Homo sapiens: one gene and its partners. The protein of the gene in region 1 purifies or fractionates together with the protein of each later gene. This does not show direct contact. Each region holds a gene or a part of one and is shown in the gene's direction. Other genes may lie near its edges. The genes, in order: SV2C, ABHD17B, UFD1 and VANGL2.

Evidence for each region.
Region 2: the proteins of SV2C (region 1) and ABHD17B purify together in Homo sapiens (affinity purification with mass spectrometry; 2 studies listed by BioGRID and IntAct, with this or other methods). This does not show direct contact.
Region 3: the proteins of SV2C (region 1) and UFD1 purify together in Homo sapiens (affinity purification with mass spectrometry; 2 studies listed by BioGRID and IntAct, with this or other methods). This does not show direct contact.
Region 4: the proteins of SV2C (region 1) and VANGL2 purify together in Homo sapiens (affinity purification with mass spectrometry; 2 studies listed by BioGRID and IntAct, with this or other methods). This does not show direct contact.

What each region holds. Positions count from the first base shown.
Region 1 is NC_000005.10:76,078,910-76,086,384, forward strand, and holds the start of SV2C (synaptic vesicle glycoprotein 2C), read left to right. Parts: upstream 1-4,473; 5' UTR 4,474-4,603; intron 4,604-5,306; exon of another isoform or gene 5,307-5,404; intron 5,405-7,475. UniProt on the Homo sapiens protein: Plays a role in the control of regulated secretion in neural and endocrine cells, enhancing selectively low-frequency neurotransmission.
Region 2 is NC_000009.12:71,873,175-71,880,198, reverse strand, and holds part of ABHD17B (alpha/beta hydrolase domain-containing protein 17B), read left to right. Parts: intron 1-5,115; 5' UTR 5,116-5,118; coding exon 5,119-5,585; intron 5,586-7,024. UniProt on the Homo sapiens protein: Hydrolyzes fatty acids from S-acylated cysteine residues in proteins. Has depalmitoylating activity towards DLG4/PSD95. Has depalmitoylating activity towards GAP43. Has depalmitoylating activity towards MAP6. Has depalmitoylating activity towards NRAS.
Region 3 is NC_000022.11:19,462,187-19,469,210, reverse strand, and holds part of UFD1 (ubiquitin recognition factor in ER-associated degradation protein 1), read left to right. Parts: intron 1-1,207; coding exon 1,208-1,338; intron 1,339-3,936; coding exon 3,937-4,009; intron 4,010-7,024. UniProt on the Homo sapiens protein: Essential component of the ubiquitin-dependent proteolytic pathway which degrades ubiquitin fusion proteins.
Region 4 is NC_000001.11:160,403,555-160,410,578, forward strand, and holds part of VANGL2 (vang-like protein 2), read left to right. Parts: intron 1-349; exon of another isoform or gene 350-838; intron 839-2,573; exon of another isoform or gene 2,574-2,771; intron 2,772-4,249; exon of another isoform or gene 4,250-4,334; intron 4,335-4,448; exon of another isoform or gene 4,449-4,701; intron 4,702-4,901; exon of another isoform or gene 4,902-5,080; intron 5,081-7,024. UniProt on the Homo sapiens protein: Involved in the control of early morphogenesis and patterning of both axial midline structures and the development of neural plate. Plays a role in the regulation of planar cell polarity, particularly in the orientation of stereociliary bundles in the cochlea.

The sequences.
Region 1 (7,475 bases):
CAGGGCAAAGAAGAGATCGACAGCCTTTCAAACAATGTAGAAAAAAGAATGAAAGAATTGAGTCAAGACAGTACTGGGCTGGTGAAGCGATTACCACCTGTAGTTTGAAGAGGGGCCATCAACAGACATTGGTCCACCACCGATGGGCGCCTGGTTGAATATGACATAGATGAAGTGGTGTACAATGAAGATTCACCTTATTGGAACATTACAATTCTACACTAGAAGCAATTTGGAAATATTCTCATCCTTAGTAGGGATGTTGATTCGGCAGAGTGATTTGGCATATACCTGGGCCATCACGGGCAGCAGCAAAGCAGATTTCACTGGCAAAGAGGTACTGCTTCTCAGAGGCTGAGATGGGGGCATATTATGAGAAATAGTCAAACTAAAATCAAAGATGGTCACTATGGTAGAGATTGACCAAATGGTGATTGATGGATGTAAGAAATATATGCAAAAAACATGTGGTGATGTTGTAGACAATCTTAAAGGAGGCTGCTATCAGGCTCTGATAGAAGACTGCATTCCAATACTGAAGAGGCACACCAAAGAAGGGAGAGAATTGGATTGTGTGACTAACGATTTGACAGCTGTTCCAATCTCCACATCTCTGGAACAAGATTCCATGTGGGAGTTTCTCAGACTGATTTTTGACCCATGAATGAATGTATTGAAACAGGATGGGAAATATTTTACACAGGCAAACTGTGTCAATCTGACAGAAGCCCTGCCACTCTATGAAGAACAGCTTGGGTGCCTGTATTGCCTTGTGGAATTCTCAAAGGAGATCGTCTATGTCCCTTCAAACTTCGAATTGTGGGTATTTTACGCTGTCTGGAAGAAAGCTAAACCCTGAAGATGAATATCCCTTAATCACAGGTGCTGCAAATGGCCTTTTTCACTTCCATATGCTGTACATGACATTGAAACAAGTCAGGCAATTGATTGTGAATTCCTTGAAGTTTTCTTTTTAATTATTATTTTTAATTTTAAAAAGCAAATGGCAAATGTATATTTTGATGAGCTTAGGGTGTTTTTTTTTTTGAAAGCCAGCTGAAGGATGGTTCAACAGCACAGCAAAGACTGCCAAATGCACTAACACCCTAGAATGTGATTTTTGTTACTTTTTATTTCTCCGTGGGCTTTGTTTTTTTGTTTTGGTTGTGATAGACTTTCAATTTGGATGTTTGGAGGAATGAACATCATTGTTTTGTTCTGGAGGGAAGTTCTTGGTGGTGTTTCTTTCACCCAATATTGACTTAGATATTAAAATGTGGTGCTTATAAGACAGAGTTTAAAAAAAATGAATAGTAATACTTCGATTAAAATTACAAAAGAGACAAAAAATAGTTTTGAGTGTTGTGGAAGCTGAGTGTTGGGGTAAGAAGAGTAGGTGTCTGCACTTTGCTATAGACTCCTGATGATAGTGAGGAGAAGTGGAGAGCTGTGTGGACTTGGTCCAAGAGTATGGGGCTGTCTTCAGACATCTGCTGTGGAAGCCAGGTGTAACTCTGACTTTCCAGAGCATCTTACAAAACCAGTTCTCCAAAGCGCAGGCTTTGGAAAACCTTGCCCTGACTACTAAAAGAGGAAGAGCAACTGACATTTATTCTATACCCATTGTGTACTAGGCACTGTGCTTCTTGTGTATATTATAAAATATAACCACTATAGCATCTGTACTTAGTGTGAATTATTTTTATGAAAACCACTTTGCTGATGCGAAAACAGACCTCTCATGCTCATTAGGTGTCTTTCACAGCTTGTTTTTTAGCATCACAAGACGACACCCTGCATTGAGGAACAAAAGTCCTGAGGTGTAGGAGAGCAATGACTTTAGAGTACTGGGATTCTGTGGGGATGGAGGGTATACCCCTTTTCACTCCATCCGCTTCTACAAGACAAGTGTTTTCAGAAGAGAGAAAACATTTCATTATAATGAAGGCATGAATAAAACTAGTCTGAGTGCTGGATCCAAGGGGCCTGGGGCCAAGGTGTGTGCCAGGCAGGACCCTAGAACCAGAACTGCTTTAGAGGGCAAGTCCAGGAACCAGGGCACAACATCATCATGACACAATGTTTCATGTCCTCCAAAGACACAACGTTAAAATAGCCTTTTCCAGTGCAACCTGGTCTTAAATGGGATGTTTCAGGCAAAATCACAATCAGGGATTTTCCTAAAGGAGCTGTTACCTTCAAATGCATCAAGACACGAAAATCCAGAAGTAGAAAAATCAACCCACTTTAAAAAAATATCTTCCACGGACAAGATAGGAGAATAATTTAAGGAAGATACAGCATAGCATAAAGAACGTTGATCACGTTTAAAGTTTGTTTCATGGTTTTCTGAACTTCCATCACTTGGAGAAACAATCCATTATTCTGCAACAGTTTAGGGGAGGTTCTCAAAAAGGTAACCGTTTGAGAACTCAGTGAATTGCCAGCACATTTTGCAGTTGGAAGCTCAAATTTTTATAAATAACATGCGGGGAATCCAGATAGGATTTATTTTTTAATTTCACAATTGTATTTCCAATGCTGGATTCATAGGCACTTCCTTGTCATAGTAGCAGCACATTAATTTTAGCCTAAATAATTATTTAAATTATTTAACTATTTAAATTATTTAACTATTTAAATAATTATTTTACTAAGAAGAATCCACGAAATGAAAATGAGCACGTTCACTAATTTTCATATTGCCTGACCATCTCATAGCACCATGGTCACAGACTGCAAAGCCTCTCACCGGAACAAGACAGACCAGCAAGGAAGTGTAGGTTCAACAGCACATGAGAATCATAACTTTTAGTGCCAGAGTGTCTGAACCAGAGAGGAGGGAAAATGAGAGGCCAAGAGTTGTCTCCATTTTCTTCTCTTCACAGTATCCTGCATAGTGGCACAAATCGAACTGGAAAGCCCAAGCTAACAACACCGCCCTGGGCGAACCGCCTGTCTCCACCGGCTCCTCTGGGCAGGAGGCTCCAGCCTGGGGGTGCCTGACAGCTCTCCTTCCCCGGCGCCTGTATTATACATGTAACATTTATATTTCTATCCACACAGCGTTCATTCAGCCATCCATTCAATCACCCAGGCATATTTACACGGATGGAACACATTCGCGGAGAGATGTGTGTGTTTGAGTTCCAATCACTGCAGCCCGTATTGGCGCGGCGCTTTGTCTCGCTTTGGGTCACCACCACAGGAGCAACGATTTCGGGGACGGCACACGCCTGTGTGACCGCTTCCCACTCCACTTGGGTTCCGTGAGCGCGCGGAGCCGGAGGAGTCAGGGACGTGAGGATGCCCTACTTCCCGCAGCATCCGGATGGCAGGGTCTGCGTCGGAAGGCCCGGGAGGGCGACGCCCTCCACTGCTGCCGCGGGGTGGGTGCGCCAGGCCTGGGTGTGGCCTCACGGGAGCGAGTTTCTCTCCAGCCGCCTGGCCCACCGCTTTGGAACAGTGAAGCTCGAGTTGGGGTCTCCTGCACGCCAAGGGGAGAAATGTTTGTTTCTGACAACACAAGCAAAATTCTCTCTCCTGCACGCCAAGGGGAGAAATGTTTGTTTCTAACAACACAAGCAAAATTCTCTCTCTCTCTCCCTCTCTCTCTCTCTTCTCTCCTCTCTCTTTCTCCCTCCTCCTCCTTTCTTTCTTTCTCTTTTTCTTTCTTTCTTTCTTTCTTCCTCCTCCTCCTCTCTCTCTCTCTATCTCTCTCTCCACCCCCCCCCCCTCATATTTGGTTGTTTCCCCTCTAAGGGGCCACTTTCAATATCTGCCTGTGAGCCCAGCTGTCTGGCCCTATGTAGCATTGGGGAGACAGTAGACTTAACCCAGCGAAGTTTTCTTCTGTTTGCTCTTGCTGTGCCCAAGTTTCCTCTGGACTTGTCTTCCAGCGTCGGGGTGGGGGCTGGGGGAAGTAGGCAACCTAGCTCTGCCTGGTTGCTCCCTGGAAGCCAAGTCGAAGTGAACAAGTCAGTCCCAGGCCCGGAAATAGAATACAAACCCTCTTTTTGTCCGGTGCTAACAGAGTCCAGCAGTCAGAACTCCCTCGCGTCTCACGCTGGACCTGACCCGGGGCGCCGCCAAGTGCGCAACGCACAGTCACAGTTGGTGACTAATTAAGGACTGCCGCCCCTCTCCTTCACCTGCTACAAACTCAGAGCCCTGACTTCTCCAGAAGTACCTACCACTTGGAGGTGGCTCTCCTTCCCCGCCCCCTGCCCCAGTCCCACACCGCAGCAGCGCCTCAGCACCGCGACTTGCCGGAGCACCGCGAGTGGCGCGCGGGTCCCGCCTCCCCCGCGCGCCGTGACTCCCTGCGCACCGCTGGTACTCTCGCCACGCCGCCGCCCGGCACTGCAGCACCAGGGGGAGGAGGCAGGCGGAGGAGAGGAGGAGGACCGCAGCGTGCAAGCCGGGAGCCACTTTCCCGCCCCTCCTCTCGCCGCTGACACGCTCAGAGGAGTCACCACTCCGCGCGCTGCAGGCGAGAGTGGCAGACGGAGGCAGCCCGGGGAAGCGAGCCGGAGCGGCGCCCGCACTGAGGCGGCTGCAGTGCTGACACCACTCAGGGCAAGGGTGTCCGACGGCTGGAGCGGTGAGTGGGGGAGGTGAAGCGGGCATCCGCGGGGAGACTTTCCCCCGCTGCTGGATTTCTCTTCCCGACTGGTGGCCGGGCGCTGCAGCCTGGGGAAGTTTTTGCAGCCTTTCGGAAGCGCAACTTTGCCCCGCCTGCCCCCGGGGAAGCGGCTGCAGGTGCCCGCTGCTTTGTAGGCGCCTTTGTTGGAGAGGGACCAGGAAAGTAGGGGTAAAATAGATGCAGTGACCCCAGGGTTCGCTAGGGTAGGTCTGGGGACTGGGTCGCACTTTATCTGGGATTCCCAGAGGAGGTGGGTGGGCAGCAGCGGGGATGCAGGGGCCGCATCTGCAGCGACCGCCACGCTCTTTTTTGCTTGTGTGGTTTGACCGGCAGGGATAGGCAGATTCAAATCTAGCAGCCTAGAGCCCCGGGCTGGGTACCTGGACCTATACCTTCATAGCTGCCTTAGGCTCAACTTTTCGGCGGGGATCCCTCTGCAGACGTGCAGGTGGCGGGAGAGCAGAGGTAGCCGCAGTAAGTGCTGAGAGAGCCTGAAAGAAACACCATGAATTTTCAAACTCTCCCACATACATTCCCGAAGCGCCTGTCTGGCGTCTAAGAGAGAGCAAGAGAGGGCTGGAGAGCAGGGGAGCCCGCGGGGCTGAGGCTCTTTGTCAGCGCCTGCACTTCCTACGTTACAACGCCTTCATTCAGCAAAAACCTTTTGGGCGCCTGCTGTGCGCCAGGCCAGGCGAAGCAGACCCGAGGCTGTGAAGCTCAGAGGGGAGAGGGACCAATCGCAGTAAATAAGCTACCGAGGTAATCTTAGATGGCGATGAGGGCAGCAAAAGCCATCAGCCGACCCTCTGACCCTTTCTCTTAGTGGGCTTTTCCCCTTCCGCCTGGGTTCTAGAACTGGGAAGACTTTTCTCCAGAGCGTCGCGGGGAGCGCCCCGGGCTGGGCCCACGGGGACTGCGGAATACGGGGATGAACTTGGCTTGGGGCAGCCAGCACCCCACGGCAGATGAACAATCGGGAGCAGATCTGTGGGCGTGCGGGGACCTTAGGCGGCGCGCGGGGGCGGGGGGAGGGGCTGAGCCACGGGGGCTAGAGGTGCCGCCTGGACGGCCTGAGCTGGGGGCGCTCGCGTCACCTTCTACGTGTGCGAGTGATGCAAATGCAGACCCGCGAGGGGCGGGCGGGGGTGGCGGGCGGGGGCAGGCGACGGAGTCTCCGTCTGGGAGCGCGCGTGTGTGCGTCAAAAGCTCTGGGTTGATGGATGCCCCGCGGCGCGCCTGGCGCGGAGAGCGGCGACCCGGCGGGGCAGAGGGGGGCGGGAGGACTGCGGCGGCGCGGGGCGGCGAGGAAAGCCCCGCACGGCCTGGGCTGGCGGGCAGGCGGCTCCGCAGTGCGCCGCAGTGCCGGGAAGGAGCCGCAGCTACCGGGCGCTCCCCGGGGGACCGAGGAGATGAGGCGTCTTTTAAGGCTCATGAGAGCCTTAAGGAGATGAGACCGGGATGCCGTGATGGTCTCCTCTCCCGCTGAACCTAATCCCTTCATACTTAGCTGACTGCTAGCGCGGTAGCTTCCGTTTAATTCTTATCCTTAATTCTGAAGAATGTGGCATTAATCTCTCAGGCGTTCACTCATTTTCCATGGCAAGTTCCGAAAGGCCTCGTGCTCGTGGGAAGTTTTCATGTGAACGCCTAGGTGTTGAGGTTCGTGAGGTTCTGTAGTGCCAACCCGTTGCGCCACCATTCTGCAGGATTTTTGGCAGGAGGCCTGGCCTCTAAGTGAGGTTTAAGAATGTCTTACAAAACAATATGCCGCATTCCTCTTTCATGGCATAAAAATACGCGTTAAAAAACACTACTGATAACGCATTCTCTGGTGGAAAATAATAAATCAAATCCACGATCCATTTTATTCTTTTTTTTAAAGACCACTTTCTGGAAACCCAGTGACAAAGTTTTTCTACTGGCTTTACTGAAGGAGCCCAAATCTGCAGTATGTAGGCAAAATGAATGAAAGGGGACGGGGTTGGGAAAAAAGAAAGAAAGGAAGGGAGGGAGGAAGAAAAGCAATTATCAAGGAACCCAGAGACACAGATGCTAGTCACCATTTCCCCAAATATTGTGTTATGTCACCTTGGGCAGGTTACTCACCCTCTTGGGTTCATCTTCCACCTCTGAGAATTGTGAAAAATAGCTTATACTAGCTCTTATGTACCTTACAGGGTTGTTTTGAAGACAAAAGAGATAATCTCAGAGAGCTTTGGCTTTGGAAATACAAATTTTCCATGAATGGAAAATATTAGCAAACAAAGCCCCTACACACACACACACACACACACACACACACACAGAATTTTCTTTTAAAAAATTCTAGAGACTTTTCCCAGCATTGTTTTTTTAATGAAATTTGGCCCTCAATGTGAGCAAATGCAGACAGCAGACTTTTCCTAACAGTCTAATATGTAATCCAATGCCATTAGCTACTGACTGTCTGGAGAAGGAAAAAAAGAAGCTCTGGATCACATCTGAGTGTTTTGTTCATGTAGTGGAGAAATCAGCTTTATTTTTCATGACCCAATGACAGTGAAAGTAGCTTCTCTGATCTGAGCAGCAGACTGGCCTAACAGCTTGTAGTAAAACTCCTATTCATTATTAACCCTATCATATTCCTTAAGTGTGGAAATGCTTCAAATAATAGGATCCAGTTCCCAGTCTCCAGGAGATTACGGCAAAGGCATCATAATGTGCAATATATCACGTGACGACAAGTACCAGAAAACCCATTTCCTATAATTAGGAGTGTTATCTCTTATTCTTAAGCAAACTTGATGACATATTGTATGAATAAAAGCATGTGATTTGTCAAAATGGCTCC
Region 2 (7,024 bases), on another chromosome or scaffold:
AGTGAAGGTGGTCTTTGATTTCCCTTTGAAGTTCTGATGGTTATTTGCATATTCTAGCCTTTGTGCCAATTTTGTCCTTTTATATTACTCAAGAAGTGCGTGAGTTTTGTCTAGGTTATTTATTGACACATGATATTCTTTCATTTCTAGAAACTATGTCTGTAGCTCAAAGTCCTTTTTCCTTTAGTACATTATTTCGTTTATTTTGCTTATCTCTTTCTTGTGATCAGTCTTGTCTGAGTACCCTTTCCACAAAACAGTAGTTATGAGTTTGGGTTACAGAGTCATTCTGTCATGTATCAGTTCCATTGATCAGATTTGTGACATTAGGCAACTTATGTAACTATTCTATGCCTCTGTTTTCTCAATTGCAAAATGGGTGTAATAATAGTCCCTAAAGCAGAGGATTGTTGAAAGGATTAGTTAATATGTGAAAAGTGTTTAGAATAGTGCCTGACACTTTGTAAGTGTTCAGTTAATGCTATTTGCTATTAGTAGTAGTGGAAGCCTTTTCTGAAATCAGCTGTTGGTTCTCCATTGCTTTTTGTTCTTTGTTTTGTTGATATCTGCTCTTAATTTTCTTTTTCTTGTTTTCTTTTTGTTTACTCTCTTCTTAAGTTGGACACTAATATTTAAAGCTAGACTTTTGTAATGGATAATTGTAACTCCTTTAGATGTGCCCTGCACTATCATTTTTCTGATGATTATATCTGACTTATTAAGAGTCATGCTTATATTCAGGCTTTTCTTCTATGTCTTAAGCTTATCAGTATCAGTAGCATCCTCAACAAGTCAGGTACCCCAGCACATTTTTACCTCTTAAGTAGTCTCTCTTTTGTCAATCCTCTTCGTATTCATATTCACCAAAGTTTTTGTTCTGGATTTTTAGGGATATACTTTGTTGTCTTCACCCTCCTTGCTCCCATTGCTCACTTGTACAAAAAACATTGTATTAACTATTCTCCTTTATTTCTCATATCTCAGATATCTCATAGAAGTCCCTTGGGATTTGGGGGGTTTTTGTTTGTTTTGTTGTTATTGTTGAGACAGGCTCTCACTCTGTAGCCCAGGCTGGAGTGTAGTGGCTCTATCACAGCTCGCTGTAGCCTTGACCTCCCATGCTCCAGCAGTCCTCCCACTCCAGCCACGCCAGTGGCTGAGATTACAGGCACACACTACCATGCCCAGCTAATTTTTGTATTTTTTATAGAGATGGAGTTTTGCCATGGTGCTCAGGCTGGTTTTCAATTCCTGGGCTCAAGCAATCCTCCTACCTCGGCCTCCCAAAGTGTTGGGATTATAGGTGTGAGCCACTGTGCCTGGCCTTCCCTTGGATTTATCTCCTTCCCTCCTTGCTGGAGTTTTTCAAAGAGAGACTTGATTTGGTTAAGTCTTACGAGTTTTTGTGGGCCTGCAGATCTCTCTCTCTCTTTGTTTTTTTTGATAGAGACAATGTTTTCCTATGTTGCTTAAGTGGTCCTCCCATCTTGGCCTCCCAAAGTGCTGGGATTACAGGAGTGAGCCACCACACCCAGCCCAGATACCTTTATCCTTATATTAAAACTGTATTTTTGTTCTATGTACAATTCTAGGTTAAAAGTTTGATTTCATCTTTAGCTTAAAATTATCTCTCCATTGTCTTTTGGCTTCCAGTGTTTATATTAGAAAGTCATATGTTCATCTGATCTTGTTCATTTTTAAGTAGTTTGTTGTTTTTTGGTACACTTTGAGGTGTTTCAATCTGACTTTTTTTCCCCCTTTAATTCTGAGAAATTCTTAAATAGTCTTATCTTTATTTTCTCCTGGAACTTCTATAGTATGGATAGTGATATTTCTACTTCTATTTCTATCTATTAAATTTTGTTGTTTTCTGTCTCTTAATTCCCACAAAAAAATTCCATATTTGCAAATTACTCAACCTGATCTTTTAGCTCACTGATGTGTTTTTCAACTGTTAACTGCTCAAGCAATCCACTGCGTCTGGCATGAGTTTTATAAGAACAAGTTGGACTTGAAATTATCTAAGTTTAACAAGCTATTTCAGTGATTTTTTTTTTTTTTTACAGAATAAAATGTTTTTCTTCAGTAACTTGCTCACACTATACTAAAACCTAGATTTATTTGTTTTGTTTATAGTTTTTGTGAAATTTTTCAGACTTAAAAAGTATTCAATTAACTTTTGAAAGTAGGTCTGTGTTGCTGCCCTATACCAGGCCTCTTATTAGGAAAGTGATCATTTGCAAGTTGTTGTCATTAAATAAGCCCCAGTTATCTGGCTTTTGGGCAGTGGAAGAGGGGAGTCATTCTGTCAGCATTAAGGAAGTGAAGTTGTCATTAAACTAGACCCTGGCACTGCAGTTTTTCTCCTTTCTGCTTCTCTCCTTTGGTGTTCATCCCCAGAAACTTCTTCACAGCATTATATATGTTCAACCAGCCAGCTTTATTTCAAAAGTAGTTTATTATAGTGTATGAAAGTTTTTCTGCTGGGTGCGGTGGCTCATGCCTGTAATCCCAGCAGTTTGGGAGGCCAAGGCAGGCAGATCATTTGAGGTCAGGAGTTCGAGACTAGCCTGGCCAACATCATGAAACCCCATCTCTACTAAAAATACAAAAATTAGCTGGGCATGGTGGTGTGTGCCTGTAATCCCAGCTACTGGGGAGGCTGAGGCAGGAGAATCACTTGAATGTGGGAGGCGGAGGTTGCAGTGAGCCAAGATCGCACCACTGCACTCCAGCCTGGGCGATAGAGTGAGACTTCGTCTCGAAAAACAACAACAAAAGTGTTTCTGGCTAAGAGATAAATTATAGGACTATAGTCTAGATACGTACCATTTACTTATTAAGCTTTTTAAAAGGCTATTGTGGCTCAGCAGTCAATGGTATATGAGGTAATCAGGGTTGACAAATAACCATAGACAGATATTAAACAGACAGCACTGATATTATACCTTGTACCTCATCATCTTTCTGCAGGTCATTTCCTCCTCTGGAACAGATCCTTTGAGTTCCTTCCCTTTCATCTTCTTCAACAGACACTTTATCCTCCTGACCAGGATAGTAAATTTGTAGCCAGAGTCTATAGTAAACATCACTAATTTATCACATCTTTTGCTGGCTAAGCCCTGTGTATGCCTTAGAATCATTCTCAGCACAACACTTCAGGAAGCCCTCAGTTAAAGTTAGCAGATGACACTTAGTTGTTATTTCTGTCCTATTTCTTGTTCCAACCAGAGTAAGCCATTAACTTATTCAGGCTGTATTTTGAAGCCTAAAAAGAAATAAAGGTAGGAAGCAATTAAAGCATTTCCTAATATCCAAGATGTTTTTCTGCCCTTCCCTCACCTTTTGAAGTCTTTTATGTTATACCTACCCTTGTTCCTCTCTTCCTGTGCTTTTTTCTGCTGCTTCTTATAAACACATTTATACTGAGCATTATAGGATATATTTGATTCTGTATTGAGTGAAAAGGGCATTTTTTCCCCCAGATATTCTCAACCATTTAGTCACTCTGTTGAGTTGTTTTCTTCCCATTTTTGGTGTAATAGGGTACTTTTTTCCCCCTATTCTTATATTTAGATTTTTTTTTTTTCTTTTTGGAGAAAATTGGATGCCACCAAACCTGTAAGGTGTTGGTTTTAAATGCCTTTTCTCTGGAACTAAGCAATGGCCTAATTTTGCTAAAAAGAGACAGGAATTTGAAAAAGGACAAGATAGAAGGAAATACTGATAGAACTAACAAGTATTACTTTATTTTTGTCCCTAAGTTAAAGTGTGACAATGATATGGCCATCACTCACCGTATGTTGTATGATGGGCCTTCACTACACCAACATTTGATATTCACAACCAGGTCCTTCAGTGTAGGTATTGGCCTTGTTTACTTATGAAGAAAATGAGAGTCAAAGAGATAGTTTGCCCAAGGACATACAGCTGGCAAACGGTAAGTGGTAGAGTTAGGATTTTACCCCAGCTTCCTAACTTTAAACCTTGTACTCTTTCTCTTCCAAACATTTAGAAAAGTTTACCTTTAGTAGATTTTACCTTTTTTCCACAATAAACTTTATATTATAGCCTTTTTAGTTTGGGCAGTAATTACATACATACATACATGCATGCATACATACATACACTTTAATGTTCTATAGGTTATTTGGGCCACTGGCACTGTGACCAAAGTGATAGTCTTCTGAGCGTGTTCTGAATCTGTGAGGCAGTGTAGCCCAGTAACATAGTGTAGTGACAGCCTGGAGTCAAATCCTGGCTCCACCACTGCCTCATCTTGTGCAAGTTTCCTTTCTCACAACAACTTACACAGTTGTTCTGAGAATTAAACCAAGTAACACACATAGAGCACTTGGCACAATGCCTGACAAATAGCTTCATAAATGCTATTAGTATGTATTCACTTTATGCTAAATTCCTAGCTTCTCCATGAGGTTCTAAGAACTTTTGCTGAGTTACATAGAAATTACAGACTACACTAAAGATATTTCATACCTTCAGGTTATTTGTAAAGAAATGGCAAATATTACCTTTATCATTTTTGACATTTATGTTAAATGAGATAATAATCACTGCTATTTGAAACCTGTCATATAGGATTTGAGTCTGTCTGCTGGTCAGGAATATTTGCCTCACCCCAGGATTTAAAGTACTTCTAGAAAGAAGCCAAAGGCCGGGCGTGGTGGCTTACTCCTTGTAATCCCAGCACTTTGGGAGGCCGAGGTGGGTGAATCACCTGAGGTCAGGAGTTCGAGACCAATCTGATCAACATGGAGAAACCCCATCTCTACTAAAAATACAAAATTAACCGGGTGTGGTGGCGCATGCCTGTAATCCCAGCTACTTAGGAGGCTGAGGCAGGAGAACCACTTGAACCCGGGAGGCGTAGGTTATGATGAGCTGAGATTGCGCCATTGCACTCCAGCCTGGGCAACAAGAGTGAAACTCCGTCTCAAAAAAAAAAAAGAAGCCAAAAATCTGTTTGGAATCATACCTAAAATAGTAATAGTCATTAACCACCAATAAAATTTACCCATGTCTGTGTTTTAACTTTTTATTGTATGAGTCTACATTCAGTTATTAAAATATTTGCTATCTCCTTTTCTTTTTCAGAGCATGAATAATCTTTCATTTAGTGAGCTATGTTGCCTCTTCTGCTGTCCACCTTGTCCAGGGAAGATTGCTTCAAAATTAGCGTTTTTGCCACCTGATCCAACTTACACACTGATGTGTGATGAAAGCGGAAGCCGTTGGACTTTACATCTGTCTGAACGAGCAGACTGGCAGTATTCTTCTAGAGAAAAAGATGCTATTGAGTGTTTCATGACTAGAACCAGTAAAGGCAACAGAATTGCTTGTATGTTTGTACGTTGTTCACCCAATGCGAAATACACTTTACTCTTCTCACATGGAAATGCTGTTGATCTTGGTCAAATGAGCAGCTTTTACATAGGACTAGGATCACGGATTAATTGTAATATATTCTCATATGATTATTCTGGATATGGTGCCAGTTCCGGGAAACCCACAGAGAAGAACCTCTATGCAGACATTGAAGCTGCTTGGCTTGCTCTTAGGACAAGGTAAATTGTGGTTGGAATTTATTTTTCATACTCGTGGTGGTTAGCTAAAAATATCTTGTGTAAGAATAGAATAAAAGCTGTTTTTATTATACATAACTGCTATATAGAGGTTATATTTACTATTATATACCTGTGAATAAATATTTTAGACAGCAATTTTAAATTTCACATAATAGCAAAACAAAGTTTTTAAAGACAGTTTCAGGTTTGTTTGTCTACATTAATACACGTATATATGTATGTTTTTTTTAACTTAAATTCTTAGCTGGAAGTCCATGGTGCATGCCTATAGTCCTAGTTACTTAGGAGACAAAGTCAGGGGAATCACTTGAGGCCAGGAGTTTGAGGCTGCAGTGAGCTATGATCGTGCCACTGCACTCCAGCCTGAGTGACAGCGTCAGACCTCATCTCTTAAAAAGTTAAAAAAAAAAAAAAATTAAATCCAGTGACAAATGTTTGGTTTTTGTAAGCTTTCTTATTGGAGTGTGATATAAAAAATGTTTATTCAAAGCTGCAACCTTTCAAGGAAATGAGAGAAAATACTGACATAGCTAATTATTCACTTGATCTGTCATTAACAGTATGAGGCTGGATTGCTTTCTATTAAAATCTTAAGCCAAGATTTGCATTATTTTATGTGATTACTTCTTGGGAAGTACAACTTAAAGATACCTTATTGGAATTATTTTTCAAGTATTCATTCTGTAAAACTGAGATTTTACTTTATATTCTGTGTTCCTAAAATTGGGAGAGATTATATCAAGTTTAAAAAAATTTTTTAGGCTGGGTGCGGTGGCTCACGCCTGTAGTCCTAGCACTTTGGGAGGCTGAGGCAGGCGAATCACAAGGTCAGGAGTTCGAGACCAGTCTGGCCAACATGGTGAAACCCCATCTCTACTAAAAATACAAAAAAAAAATGTCTGGGCGCAGTGGCTCATGCCTGTAATCACAGCACTTTGGGAGGCTAAGGCAGGTAGATCACGAGGTCAGGTATTCGAGACCAGCCTGGCCAAGATGGTGAAACCCCGTCTCTACTAAAAATACGAAAATTAGCCGGGCACAGTGGCGGGTGCCTGTAATCCCAGGTATTCGGGAAGCTGAGGCAGGAGAATCACTTGAACCTGGGAGGCGGAGGTTGCAGTGAGCTGAGATCACACCACTGCACTCAAGCCCAAGTGACAGAGTAAGACTCTGTTTAAAAAAAAAGAAGTTTTAATGTTATGATAAATTGTTTAATAAAATTTTCTTACTATGTCAGTTATTCTTTGATTATAGCAGCATACATTTTGGGGAACTAGAAATTGCATTAATCTTTTCTAGTCACCAAGATACCTAAACATTTTTCTTGAAAAAAAAATCACAATTTGGTAGACTTCAGTGTATTATTAGTCAGGTTAGTGTACAATAAACAGATACCTTAATATAGGCTATTCTTTATA
Region 3 (7,024 bases), on another chromosome or scaffold:
CCTGTTAGAACATCACTCCTGGGGATGCCAGACCCCCGTTACCAAAGCCAGTCACCTCTGCATCCTTCTGTGCCTGCCTGTGGCATTTGGTAGAGTGACCACCCTCTATTTCTGCCCTTACTAGCCTGACAAGCAGCTGTCAGCGTGAGTGCATGGGGTCCTCTGCAAGCCTATCCATAGGGCCCACCACTCAGGCTTCACTCATGGCCTAGGCACGGCTTCCCAGGCACAGCCTCGGCCTCAGCATGCCTCTCCCTCCTCATGAGCTCCCTCTCATTTGTGACACAGCCCTCAGCCCCCTTTTCCCTTGGCTGTTAAAGTCACCTTCTCACTGCCACTCCCGATGAAACATTCTTGAAGGGATGTGATACCTGGGATTTGCTTCAGGGCATCTAATGTGGCTTGGGACTGGGTGTGAGGTAGTGCTGATCGATGGACTGAGCCACGACGTGAGCACTGTCCAACTGTCAGGGCTCGGTGCGTGGGAGCTCTCTTCTACGGCTCTTTCTACTGATGTATATGTCTGACACCCCTTTTAAGACGGTTTCAAATAAGACAAGCAAAATTTCATTGCAAGAGACATAGAGCTTCTGACCTGAGTCTGGACTCCCTGCACACCCAGTACTCATGGGCATTGTTTATCTCTTTCCGTCTCACTTCTCAGCCGTCGTCTACCTGGCTGGGTTGTTTAATAGAGACATGTGGAGGCTTTGTCAGATTTTTATAACCTCCTTAGCAGAGACCTCTGGGGTCTGTCACCATCTTGCAGCCTCAGCTGTGGTGGGCCATTCCATTGCCAGGTCAGCCTTGCCTTGTGCTGCTTTTGTCCTACCTCAGGTGCAGCCCTACTTGACGCAGGGCCTTATAATTTGCTTGTGGGACAGCTTGGAAGTACAGTGAGTGACTATTCCAGGAAAATGCTCTGCCCCTGGGAAGCCTGGAGCTAGTGAGTAATCCGGGCAGCCCTGCAGAGATGCGTTCACACTGTGAGCTATACAGCTTCAGTAGCACCCCTTTATTGGCCTTCTTCCTTCCACATCACTTGATTTTTCCCTCCTTCCTGACATAGTATCACGAATTACTTATCTTGGCTCAGGTTCCTCTTCCAAGGACCCAAGTAAGACGGGCCTGCCCAGTGTATAGGGAGCAGTGGTTGTGGAGGCTGCTTCATCTCTAGGAGTCTCATGTAGCCTCTTCTTCCTTTCAGATGATGCAGAACTTACTCTTGGAAGAAGGCGGCCTGGTCCAGGTGGAGAGCGTCAACCTTCAAGTGGCCACCTACTCCAAATTCCAACCTCAGAGCCCTGACTTCCTGGACATCACCAACCCCAAAGCCGTGTATCTTTTTCAAATAAGCGGAGTTCTTCTAGACAAAGGAGAGTGTGCTGGCGGTTGTTAAACATCATGTACTGTATTGAATCTGTGCCTGCTTTGGGGATCACACATTTGTGATTCAAGTTGTGATTTGAGAATAATGGGGTTCAGCTAGCACATCTGCGTGGCCCTGGCCAAGTGCACTGGGTGCTGTCTGGGCCACCTCTGTCACTTTCCAGACACTTCATGGAGACCACAATGAAGCCCTTCTTTCAGTTGGTCTGTGTCACCTGGCACAAAGCCAGGATGCACAGTATGTCCAGTGGAAGGAGGGAGCAGCTTATCTGCCTTCAGCTCCAGCCCCTTCTGTGGCTCCCTAGTACCTCCGCCCAGCTGTGCACTGGCCCGTCAACCTCACTGCATGCCAGCCTGAGAGCTGATTCACTCCAGGCCAATAGGTAGCAATGACTGCAGTTTCTATGTCACCAAGCAGAAAGCAAAGGTATCAGGTTCTAGTGGATTCTTTTTGTTCACCTCTGAACTTAAGCCAGGTGTATGTGTTGACAGCATCAGGAAGTAGGCAGTGCAGGTACGGGACGGTGCTGTGTGCACCAATCAAGATCTCTAGCTCCATGGCCCTGATTTTTCCTGTTACGATCATGGCATAAGAGTGGCCACTCCATTCTACTTCTTTTTTTTTATTTTTTTTTAATGCATACTTGAAAAAAAAAACAAACAGTCAAACAACACAGACAGATAGGAAGTTAAGAAAAGCTGCCTCCTTTCCCAGTAGCGCTCTCTCCGCATGTTTTCTTAGGAGCAAGGCACTGCTGGGTGTGCTCTGGATGCATATGGGCCATGTATATTCTTTGCTGCCTATGTTCTGGACACGATGGCCTTGTTGAGCCTCCTGTCCCACAGGCAGGGGGATGTCCTATGGGAAGAGCTAGTTAACTTGTCCTTCAGAGCTCTGACCTAGACATGCTTGTTTGGCTGTCAGTGACCAGGAATGGGCCATGCCCATTTTCTCAGGGTTTTTACATGTGTTGCAATGCAGACTTTTTTTTGAGACGGAGTCTCACTCTGCTGCTCAGGTTGGAGTGCAGTGGCACGGTCTCAGCTCACTGCAAACTCTGCCTCCCAGATTCAAGTGATTCTCCTGCCTCAGCCTCCTGAGTAGCTGGGATTACAGGTGTGCACCACCACACCCGGCTAATTTTTGTATTTTTAGTAGAGACGGAGTTTCACCATGTTGCCTAAGCTGGTCTCGAACTCCTGACCTCAGGTGCTCCACCTGCCTCAGCCTCCCAAAGTGCTGGGATTACGTGCATGAGCCACCGCGCCCTGCCCCAATGCAGACTTATCAGGTTGATCTCAGATGCTGTTTTGTCAGCACAATTAACTTGTTAGTGTGTGGAGAAAGGGCGTCACTTCCATCAGTTGAGAGCCTGGTGTTTTCTGGTCTGGCTGAGGTCTGGATGAAAGCAGTCTTGGCACCGAGCAGAGAAAGTGGGAAGCTGGTGCTGCAGCAGGTGCCAGAGTACGCAGAGGCCATATGGGGAGCCCGCCCTGCCTGCAGAGGCCTCGTGTTCTCAGCCTGAGGGCTCTGGCTCTGCTCCTCCAGCTGCTGCAGTGGAAGTCAGAGAAGATGCCCTGGCAGGGTCACTAGAGGAGTGGAGGGAAGGGCACTTCGTACCGTGGCACTTCATATTTGGGAGCAAAGAAAGCATCCACCACATAAGGCGCTTTTCACAAAGTTGCTCTGGTTCTGGAAAGCTGTTTGACCAAGCGAGGTGAACCTAGATAGCCTCACCCTTTCACCCTCAAGTTGGACTCACAGTGGCAGGCTCTGGAGCCACATTTCATGTGACCTTTTTATGTAAAGTCCTTCAGCAAATTGATGAGGAAGACATGGCAAAATATTCCACATGAATAGACATTTCCTTGTGTGGGCATTTGGGTTCTACAGTTTTACTGTTATAAAAAGTATTTGCTGGTTTCTTTATTTTAATTTCTATTAACTAAAGTTATCAGCTCAAAAGATAGAAACAACAGAAGTATAAATGAAAGCATCTTTGATTTTGAGGAACTTTTGAGAGGACCTATCTGACTCATTAAATCTTTTTTGTTCTTTAGTACTCCCACAGGATTTTTTAAAATCCCATGGTATAATTTGTATACAATAAAATGCACACAGTTCAGCCAGTTTGAAAATGTATACACCCATGTAATCAGAACATTTCCATGTCCCCAAAAGGTCCTTTCCTGTCAGTCCCCACCTGATCCCCTGGCCCAGAAACCTCTCAGCTACCTCCCATCCTCATAGATCTGTCTTTCTCAGGGTTCCATGTGGATGGAATCTCACTGCCCTTTTGTGGTTGGTTATTTCCCCTTCCCCCAGCTTGGCATTTGTTACCCCAGCTTGGCATTTCATCCATATTATTGCATATTAGGAGTTCCATCCTTCTTTATTGCCAAGTAGTACTTTATTGTATTAAAAGCTTCGTGTTTCAAGTACCATCATGGTACAGTCTCTACCTACCAGTAATCATCTAACATGGAAACTTGTTTCAGATTAAGGTATCCATCTTGCCATGTTGCCTTGACAGAATGTGTCTGCAGATTAGAAAACGCACTTAGGAACTTTGCCTGTCTGACCACCGGGGATGTGATTGCCATCAACTATAATGAAAAGGTGAGCCCAGTTCATGCAGGTCATTCCTGACAAGAGCCACCTGCAGTGTCCATTCTAATGTTTGAATGGGGCTTCTTTTTAAGCAGCGTATGCCTGGATCTTATCACCTAATTACTGCCTACTGTTTGGTTATTAAGTTTTCCCGGGTTCATATTTAGAGCCCTAATTCATTTGGTAACTCTGTTTTGAGGATAGATTGCATTTACAGGGGAACATTGATAGACTTATTAGTCATACCTCTGTGTACCTTGGTGGCAAGGCTGCTGGTTCTGTCTTGGTTTGAAAGGTCCCCACTGCACCTCTAATCTGAGCTAAGCCCTTTGCAGGGCTGTGGAGACACAATAACAACCCTGCTGGGTCCTTGTCCTTGGGATACCTGCCCCACAGAAGCTGACAGGCCCTTCAGTGGGGCCAAGTGCTGTGTGGCATCTGAGAAGCAAAGCCTGGCTCTGCCTTAGGGCAACACCTCCTAGGCTCACCTCTCCTCCTGGGAGCCCACATCCTCCTCCACCTCCTGTTTTCTTCAGCTTCCGTTTTCACTTAGCAGCTTCTCTAGGCTTGACCTTTCTGACACAAGTCTCTCAGGTCTGAATGCCTCTGTTTTCATCCCTGATTTTATGCTGTTTAGGTGTCTGGATCTAGACAATTTAACTGTAAAGTGAAATGACAGGACTTAGTCCAAAATTCAAGAAAGCATTCACTTTCCTATTACCTATGGGAATATGCCTGCAGGAGGATGTAATAGTTGGCAATCCTGCCATCAGGCTGTCCCACCACAGGCATGGAGCACAGTAATATGGGTGCCCCTGTTCACTGTGACTGTTGACAATTGACCCTCCCACAGAGCTGTTGCCAGGGCTAGCCTTAGTGTTCGGGAGTGACCACAGCCTGGCTTGGCTGGGCTTTCCCTGAAGCTAGCACTTAGCTCCTTCACAGCACTCTCTGGTCCCTTCGGGGACTGGGCCGTCACAGCTGTGTCACAGCTGCCTGTGGTTTAGCCAGTTACTCCCTTGGTGTCAGTGCAGGGATCCAGCTTATTCTCTGGCAGTTTCCTCATATTTGAGGCATCTGACCTTATTTTTCAGTTCCTTGGGTTTCGAATCACACTTTCTTTTTTCCTTTTAATAAACTAAGAAATAATCTTGTTCCCTTTAGCTTTGTGGAGAACATTTTAGGTATCGTTTACCTTAACTGAATACTCTAAGCTTTTATAATTAATTACAGGCAGTTTAATGTTATTGTTTTTAATGTTAAGGTAGTAATACTACATATAACTCCTAAACTGATGATAAAGGATAGTACTGATACTTTGCACTCTAAGGGAGGGTACATTATATAAGAGTGTATGTAAAATTGAAACACAGGTTTGAACTTCCACTTTTAGAAGTAGGGAAAACTAGATCCTCTAATGGGCCCTTCTGATTAATGTACTGTTGTGCTTATAGAGAATTTTAAACACTCTAAGCTGGGTTGCCCTGAGGGCAGATGGCCATATCAGTGCTCTAGTGGGAGATCTGAGTCAGAGATCAGGATTGAACGGGAACCCTTAAAAGCAGTAAAATATACACAGAGGTGGGTGTTGTCATTGTCTCAGGAGAAATAAACAGATCCTCTCTGGAAAAAGCACTCCAGTTTAGTTACGTCTTTGGGATTGCTGTCAATTGAACAAGCAAAGAACACATAATTAAACTACACCAAAGCAGAGACAATAAAAATTAGATCCCTAAGGAAATCAGCATTAGAATTTCTAGATACAAATGTAAAATAATTAGATATAAAATGTTCAAAGATATTTTTTAAAATGGAATTATAATAGCGAGCAACAAAAGGCTATCAAAAATAACCAGAAAGATTTGAAAAACAATGTTAAACAACAGCTATAAAAGAGTTAATGAAAGATGAATCTGAAGAAATAACAGAATTTCACACAGAGGAGCAAGGGGATGGAACATATGAGAGCTTGAGATGTTGAAGACACTGAGAAAGTCAAACATGCCCATTGCAATCCCAGTAGGAAAGAATGGAGGAATTGCAATAATCTGAAGAGATGGTAACTGAAATTGATTTAGAATTGGTGGTCAGCCCATCATGACAGGAAATTTATAATGTATAACAAACAGAATAAGCTACAGGTAGAAAATACCAAATACAGAGAGGTAAGCAGGGAGAAAACACAGTACCTTCAGAAGAACAGCAAGTAGCAGGTCTTTGAATAGCAACAGTTACAGCCAGTATCAAGTAACTATCATCAAAACCTTCCTTAAAGAATAAGGGCAAAGTGAAAATATTTTCAGATGAACCAAATCTGAGAGAGGTTATTTACCAATGGAATTTTAAAAGCATGTACTTTAGGAATAAGCATTATCCTAGAAGGAAAGCAAGAAGGAATAGGGAATAAATAAATTGGCAAATATGAATCCAGGGTAAATGTTGCCATATAAAGCAGTAATAATGTTTAATGTATGAAGCTTAAAAAATGACATCTAAAATGTTGGAAAAGAGTAAGTCTTTAGACTTACTCTCTTTTTTTTTGAGAGAGTCTCTCTTTGTCTCACCCTGGCTGGAGTGCAGTGGCGCGATCTTGGCTCACTGCAGCTACCACCTCCTGGGTTCGAGCAATTCTCCTGTCTCATCTCAGCCACCTGAGTAGCTGGGACTACAGGCATGTGCCACCACTTGCGGCTACTTTTGTATTTTTAGTAGAGACGAGGTTTCACCATGTTGGCCAGGCTGGTCTCGAACTCCTGACCTCAGGTGAGCCATCAGCCTCAGCCTCCCAAAGTGCTGGGATTATAGATGTGAGCCACCGCGCCTGGCCTAGACTTACTCTCTTGAGAGAGTTGTTTAGAATTAAAGTGTTCTCTGTTTACAATTCAATAAAGTTAATAAAAAAGATAGCTGAAGCTGGGTGTGGTAGCTCACACCTGTAATCCCAGCAATTTGGGAGGCTGAGGTGGGTGGATCACTTAAGTCCAGGAGTTTGAGACCAGACTGGGCAACATGGCAAAACCCCAT
Region 4 (7,024 bases), on another chromosome or scaffold:
TTATCTGCTCATCTGGTTTCCAGGTCCTTCCAGTTAATGGGGAGGGAACTTGACTAACAGAAGCTTTGGCAGGGAAAAGGAAGAGATCTGATCCCCTCTGAGTTTTAGGGAACTCCAGTCTTCTCCTTCCCTCAAGTGTTCATCACATTGTGAGGCCAGAGAAAGGAGTCAGAGTTGGTTGGAATTAGTACTTAACAGTGGTGTGATCTGGGCAAGTAATAAACCCCATTCCCCAGCCTCTTAGGTGTCTTAAGGCACATCCTCCAAGCCTAGACTGAGCCCTTCCACAAGGAATCCCTGGTCCCCCACCAAGTGGCTTTCTTCCCTGGTTTGCTTTTAAATTCTGGCTTTGCCACTGTCTAATTCCGTGACATCAGACAAAACTGGTAACTTTTTGAAGCCTCACCTGTAAAATGGAATTAATAATAGGCCCTACTTCTTGGGGTTATGAGGATTAAATGAAATAATAGAGAAAGCACGTTGCACAGTTCCTGGCACATAGTAAATGTTAGCTGGATGGTTCGGATTCTGAGGGATAATCATCATTAAGGGAGAGAGGTCGGAGTCGGGATAGGAGAACTAGGCTTTGGTTCTGATCTTCCTTTGGCCGACCACATTAGGCACTCTCTCCTATCTGCCAGGCACAGTGTGAAGCACAGGGGATGGAGGGGCAAATAAGATGTTTTCCCAGGGGAGACATGTGAAAACATGTTGATTCACTGCAGCCCAGTGAGTGCTGTGTGGAGGTGTGTTCAGGAGGCCACTGGAGCATAGAGGAAGAGTGCTTGGCCCTGGGGTGAGGTGCCAGGGAAGGTTCCTGCAGGAGATGCCCTGTTAGCTGGATTTTAAAAAAATTAAGGTGAAATTCACATAATAGGAAATAAACCATTTTAAAGTGAACAGTGGCATTTAGTACATTCACAGTGCTGTGCAACAACCACCTCTGTCTAGTCCCCAAACATTTGCACCATCCCGAAACAAAACCCATACCCATTACACAATTGTCGCCATTTCCCCTTACCCCAGCCCCTGGCAACCACCAATTTGCATCCTGTCTCTATGGATGTACCTATTCTGGATATTTCATACAAATGGAATGATAGAATGCATGACCTTTTGAATCTGGCTTCCTTCGCTTAACATAATGTTTTCCAGGTTAATCCACACGGTAGCATGTAGCATGTATTAGTACTTCATTCCCTTTTATAGCTGAATATTATTCCCTTGTGTGGACAGACTTTACCTGGTTAAAGGATGAGTTAGGCCAACAGGAAGGGTCTTAGGATGGCACTCCTGGTGGAGGCTGAGCGTGAGCAAGAAGGCACACAGGGTATTTGGTAGTCCTGTACCTTGCAGTATGAAGTGGGGATTTGGCCTCAGTTTCTCTGTCTATAAAACAAAGTTAATCATCCCTTTCCTGCTTGTGCTATGGGCTTGGTAGAGTTGGAGGTATTAGGGGAGAAGAGAGGCTAGGGTATTATTGCCTCTTCTCAGGGTCTGGGCTGGGGATGGGACTTTTAAAACTTGCTCTTTCCTCCTCTTTCCTGGGCAGCTCACTCCTGTATGCATCAACCCTCATCCTTGTGGGGAGCCATCTCCCTGTTCACTTGACATCAGCTTCCCCTCTCTCTGAATTGACCTGAAATTTTCCCTTTTACCTTCCACAGGTGGGTAACCCTGTGCATGATGAGATTTTGGCAGCAGAGGTGAAGGAAAGGCCTGGGACTAAGTCCTACTCACATTCTACCCTACGGCGGCCCTCCCCTTCTTTATCCTGTCTCTTGGTGATGTGGCTTGGGCAGCCCTCTCTCACCTTCTCTGTTGTAGTCTGGATAGAACTGTGGTGGGCCAGGGAGAATGTTTGCATTCCTTGTCTCTACCCTGCTTGGTACAGAGTAGGAGGCAGAGGCCCTTTATGGTGGGGCCCTTTGGAAATGAGGTTTTGCTGTGCTTTGTCGGATGCCCCTGGCAAGATTGGTAATTATAGACATAACAGCTGGGAACTGGTTTGAGAGAAGCAGGCTTGGAATCAGCAGACCTGAGGATATCCTGGTAATCAGGGTGGGGCAGGGAGAGGGGAGAGTGGGATGAAGCTGGGGGCTGGGTAGGGTGGGAGGCTTGGGGCCTCCTTCCCCTGCCGCTCCACACACAGCTGGGCTTAGAGCCTAGAGGAGAGTGGGAGGTGATTGGAACCCAGGTCTGCTTTACTGTAAGTGAGGAAGGAGGAAGGAGAGGAGGAAAGGTGGGGGATCCAAGGGCCTCTGAAGAAAGAAGCAGAGAGGAGGAAGAGGCATGTTGGTTGCTCTCTCAGGCAGTACCTGGATGTGGTCTAATTTAGAACAGGGACAACCCTGCACCTAGAGGTGGTTCCATCTTATTTTGGGGTGTTTCTCCTTACAGTGAGGTTATGGGAGCAGGAAGTGGAGGGGATTCGCTGTGGACCCACTAAAGGAGAAAAGGTGGGAACTAACATTTTTTTAAGCATCTATTGTGTGCCAGAATCTGTAATATTCTGCATACATTATTTTGCTGAAAACTCTTAACCTTCTGAAGTAGGCACTATTATTGCCATTTTATAGATAAGGAAACTGAAGTTTGGAAAAGGGGAGCGACTCACCTGAGATTACATAGCTCGTAAAAGGCTGTGCCAGGTCTGACTTCAGTGCTCTTCCTTTTCCCAAAGTCTCTTCACCTTCCCCTACTGTCATTCCAGTTCGGTCTGATTGCTCATTATTGCCTTTAATCTTGCACTTGAGTAATTCCCCTGTTTTCTGAAAAGCAAACATGAGTCCAGTGTCAGCCTGAGGAGTAGAGAAGCCTACCCTTGAGGGTGGGAGTCAGAGAACGATCTCATCTCCAGGAGGAGCACCTTGGTGTCATAAGCCTGGGGCGGGGCCAGCATCTGGGCAGAAACCTCTCCTGGGGTGGGTCTCTTTCTCCTTGCTGGGCCATGATTTTGGATGGGGGTTGGGGTAAAGGAGTGACTGTAGGCTCCGGCCACCATGGCCCGTGGGGTCTTGTTTGTGAATGGGAGGAGCCTGGTCCTTATTGTCTGTAGGGTTTTCTCACAGCCCCTAACAATGTCCTTCAGACTCCTGTTTTCACCAGAGTGTTCTTGGCTCCCTCAGCCTGGTCAGAGAGAGAGGGTGTGTTTGTTTGTGGGTCTAGGGAGGGGGTTCTGGTTTTTTTTTTTTTGAAACCGTTTCGCTCGTTGACTAGGCTGGAGTGCAATGGCGCGATCTTGGCTCACTACAACCTCTGCCTCCCTGGTTCGAGTGATTCTCCTGCCTCAGCCTCCCGAATAGCTGGGATTACAGGCATGCACCACCATGCCTGGCTAATTTTGCATTTTTTGGAGAGGCGGGGTTTCACCATGTTGGTCAGGCTGGTCTGGAACTCCTGACCTCAGGTGATCTACCTGCCTCGGCCTCCCTAAGTGCTGGGATCACAGGCGTGAGCCACCACGCCCGGCCCAGGGGGTCTGGTTTTTTAGGGTAAGTAGGGTTTAGATAGGAACAGGTGCTGAGCCCGAAGTGTGAATGCAGTCACTTAAAAAACAACAGACTGTGAACAAAAACATGCATTTTGACACCTGCTTTACTTCAGGAATGGAGGTGGCAGATATAAGGGATGGGAGAGTTGAGAATTTTCAGCAAAGAGTGAGAATCTCAGGTAGGGGGGTGGTCGCGATGGTGGAGGCCGGCTGGTACTTGGGCCTTTCAGCTGGATCTGGTTTTCTAGATAAGAACTGGCCAAGTTGCCAGATCCAAGGCATTGGGCTGAGGCAACAGGAGGTTCTCAGGATGGGGATACCCAGCCCTGCCACCCTCATCCCCAGTCACACTGCATCTCACACCCTGAGGCCCACTCTACCACTTTCCTACAATCCAGCCTTTGCTGACAGTGCCCCCATATGTTCTTCCCTCACACTCCATCCTCACAGCTCAACTCTCCCCATCCACAGCAAGCCCGAGGTTGGCTAACTTCCCCTTCCCAACTAGCTGCTTTTCACATCTTTGCACCCCAGGGCAGGGGCTGGGTGAGCAGGCTTTGAAGGTCTTTTGGGGCCAGGGACAGTTGGGGCCTACCTCGAGCAGCAGGCTAGGAAGAGGGGGGCATTTGTTTTTGGAGTGTACAGGACACTCACTGACTTACGGGTCAGCACAACTCACCCACCTCCCATTGTCCACCCTCTCCCTGAAGACACCTCAAGCTGCCTGCTTTCCTTCTTGGTTCTTCCACAGCTCACCTGGTGGGCAGGTACGGGCCAGTTCTCTGCCTAGGCCAAGGGAGGAAGCAGCTCAAAGCCTGGTGGTGGAAATTGTGGGGCCTGCCTGTTGGTAAAAATTAAATGGAGAATCCAGAAGCCCTGGTTGCCTTCCCACCAGCTTAGTGTCCCGTCTTCCCGCCGGCCCCCACCTGGGACAGATGCCAGGGGCATTACTCACCTTTTCTCCTGCAGCCTTTCCACCCCCAGTGTTCTCTTCAAGACGGACTAGGAATGGGTCTGGGGAAGGCTAGGGAATGGGGTGCTATGGGACATGAATGTGCACACGTGTCTGCTTTTGTGTGCTGTGTTGGGGGGCAGGTACCTTCTGGGAGCTGGGATGGGGGTGGGGGTGCCAGAGAGACAGCGGAGCAGGTCTCTACAGAACCTGCCTAGCCAGGGTGGGTGGAGCTGGGTGGGGCAGGCAGGAGTGATTCCAGGTTTCAGAGGGGGAACAGAGTGTGGGTGTGTATGCGTATGGGTGGGTATTTTGGTGTGTTTGCGGATTTAGAGGTCCTCGGCCTCACCCCCAGCCTTAGACTGAGGGAAATTCAGGACGTAGGTGGAGAGGGGCTTGGCTCTGGCTTCCCCAACTGCTTTTGAGGTAGAATGCAAGCTCAGGTATCCTGGCCAGGAGCCCAGTCTGTGGGCCCTTCCCCTGCGGTGCACCCTGCACTGGGGTCTGCTGGTGAGAAGCTGCTCTGGAAGCCTAGATGCCTGGATGACACAAGCATGGCCAGGATCCCACCCCTCCTCTGCCACTCAGCCCAGTGAGGAGAAGGATCCTGCCCCCACCCTGGGGCTATGAGGATGGTGAGCTCATCTCTGGGGCTGTCCTGGGAGAATGCCTGGTTAACAGGGCGGGGGTGGGGCACCTGGTGCCAGCTCCTGGGCTCCCTGCTCTGCCCTTCCCACCCCTCAGCCCACCAAGATACAGCTGTTCTCTCTGGCCTCCTGGGCAGCACTGTCACCCAAGGACAGCCTTTTTCAGGGTTTAGGAATGAGGGTCAGGGCAAAATCTTCATCCTATTTTTGGTCCAGGGCTGGAGCTGGTCCTTGCCCACTCTGTACCTTAGTCTTTTCGGTGATAGCAAAAGCCCAGCCTCTCTGGATGGGTGGCTTGCCCATAGCCCAAGGCTGGATGGGGATGAAGGAACATCAAGGTTCTTAGTTGTGGTAGATGGATGGGTGCAGGAACCACCCCTTTTGGGGATAGAGGCTCTTTGGTTCTGGCTGTCTTAGCTGAGGCCTGTCTAGTCTCTGTCTCTTTGTCCCTGGTGAGAAGAGGGGGCAGGACGGAGTCAGCAAATCCTCTCCTGTCGTGGCCCTCTTGCAGTTGTGGCTACTCAAGGAACCAGTGTCCAGAGCAGTCTCATGGAGAAACCTGGTCTCACTCCAAGAGGAGCACTCCTCAAAGTCAGTGTTACTACGATTTTCCAACAATTAGAGGAGGCCAGAAATGGGCTGCCGTAGAAGTAGTGGCCATGGGCTAGTCACCTTCTCTCTCTGGGTCCCACTTTTTTATTTGTAAAATTTGAGGTTGTCCCTCTAAGGCCCCTTTCAGCTTGGTGCTGGGAACTGCTGAGAAGAGGGTGGTTCAGCCAGCTGTGTCCTCCTGAAGGGAAAAGGGAAAGGGAAAGGGAAAGGGGAAGGGGTGTCAGGGGAATGATATGGGCATAGTCAGAGGTTCAGGTACCTTCCTTCCGTCTGTGGAAGCTGTGTTGGATGTCTGCATTTTCAACCCACACCCATCAACTTCAGCCCCCCACCAGGGCCTGACAGCGCTGCCTGGGTTGAGCACATCTGTGAAACTCAGGGGAGGTGTGTGACAAGGAGGAAAACCAAGCAAGGCTCTGAAGTGCGACAGCTGTGTCTCGAGTCTCTGCTCTGCCTTGCACTGGCCTTAGGCCTTGGTGAGGTACTCTGACTGTACTCTGAGCTAGCACGGAGAGCTAGCTCCTGGGATCCTGGGCTGGGAGGTTGGACCCTGGGCTTAGTTCTTGCCACCTCCATGGCTGAAGGTGGGCTTCCAGCACTTTGAGTGGAACTTATATTGATATCCTTGGACCTTGGCACTATGGATGGTGATGATTAGGGAGCCAGGCAGCTAGGGGGTGCCCACATGCATACCCCTGCCCACGGGCTGCAGTGGGAAAGGGGTGCAAGGCATATGCAGGAAGACCCAGGCTCCTGAGTAGGAATCGGAGACCTTTAGTGGGCAGGGGCCCACAGACGACTCTTCAGGCAGGTTCTGAAGCAGTAATCACACCCATTTCCCTGTGTTCAGGCAGAACCACCCTTCCCTAGTCCCTGACTACGGAGAGAAAAATGGTCCTATCAGAGATCTCTGCCCCTGTCTGAGGAGAACTTGAGGCTTCTTGTCCTCTTTCCCATCGTCTTCCCGTCTGGCTGGAAGTCTTTTAAAAATCAAACCCAAGCACCCTTCTCAGCTGCTTCCAGCCCTGTCCTCGGTGGAGATGAGGAACACTAGGTGCCCTTTTTAGGTACATGTTTTGCTCTGTCCCTGCCCCCCTTTTCTTCCGTGGCCTACTCACCCTGGTTTCCACAGCTCTTTCTCCCAGCCCCGTCTGCATCTATGCTCTGTCTCATTACCTCACCCCAGGCCTAAAGTAGCCGGGACTGGGCTGCGGGGTGGGCCCGGGCTAGAGCAGTGGCAGGAGGTGGCGTCTGGAGCTGCCTGCGTCTGGTCATCGGCCCCCAGCACGCGCCACACATGGGGGTGCTGGCGTTTGTGTT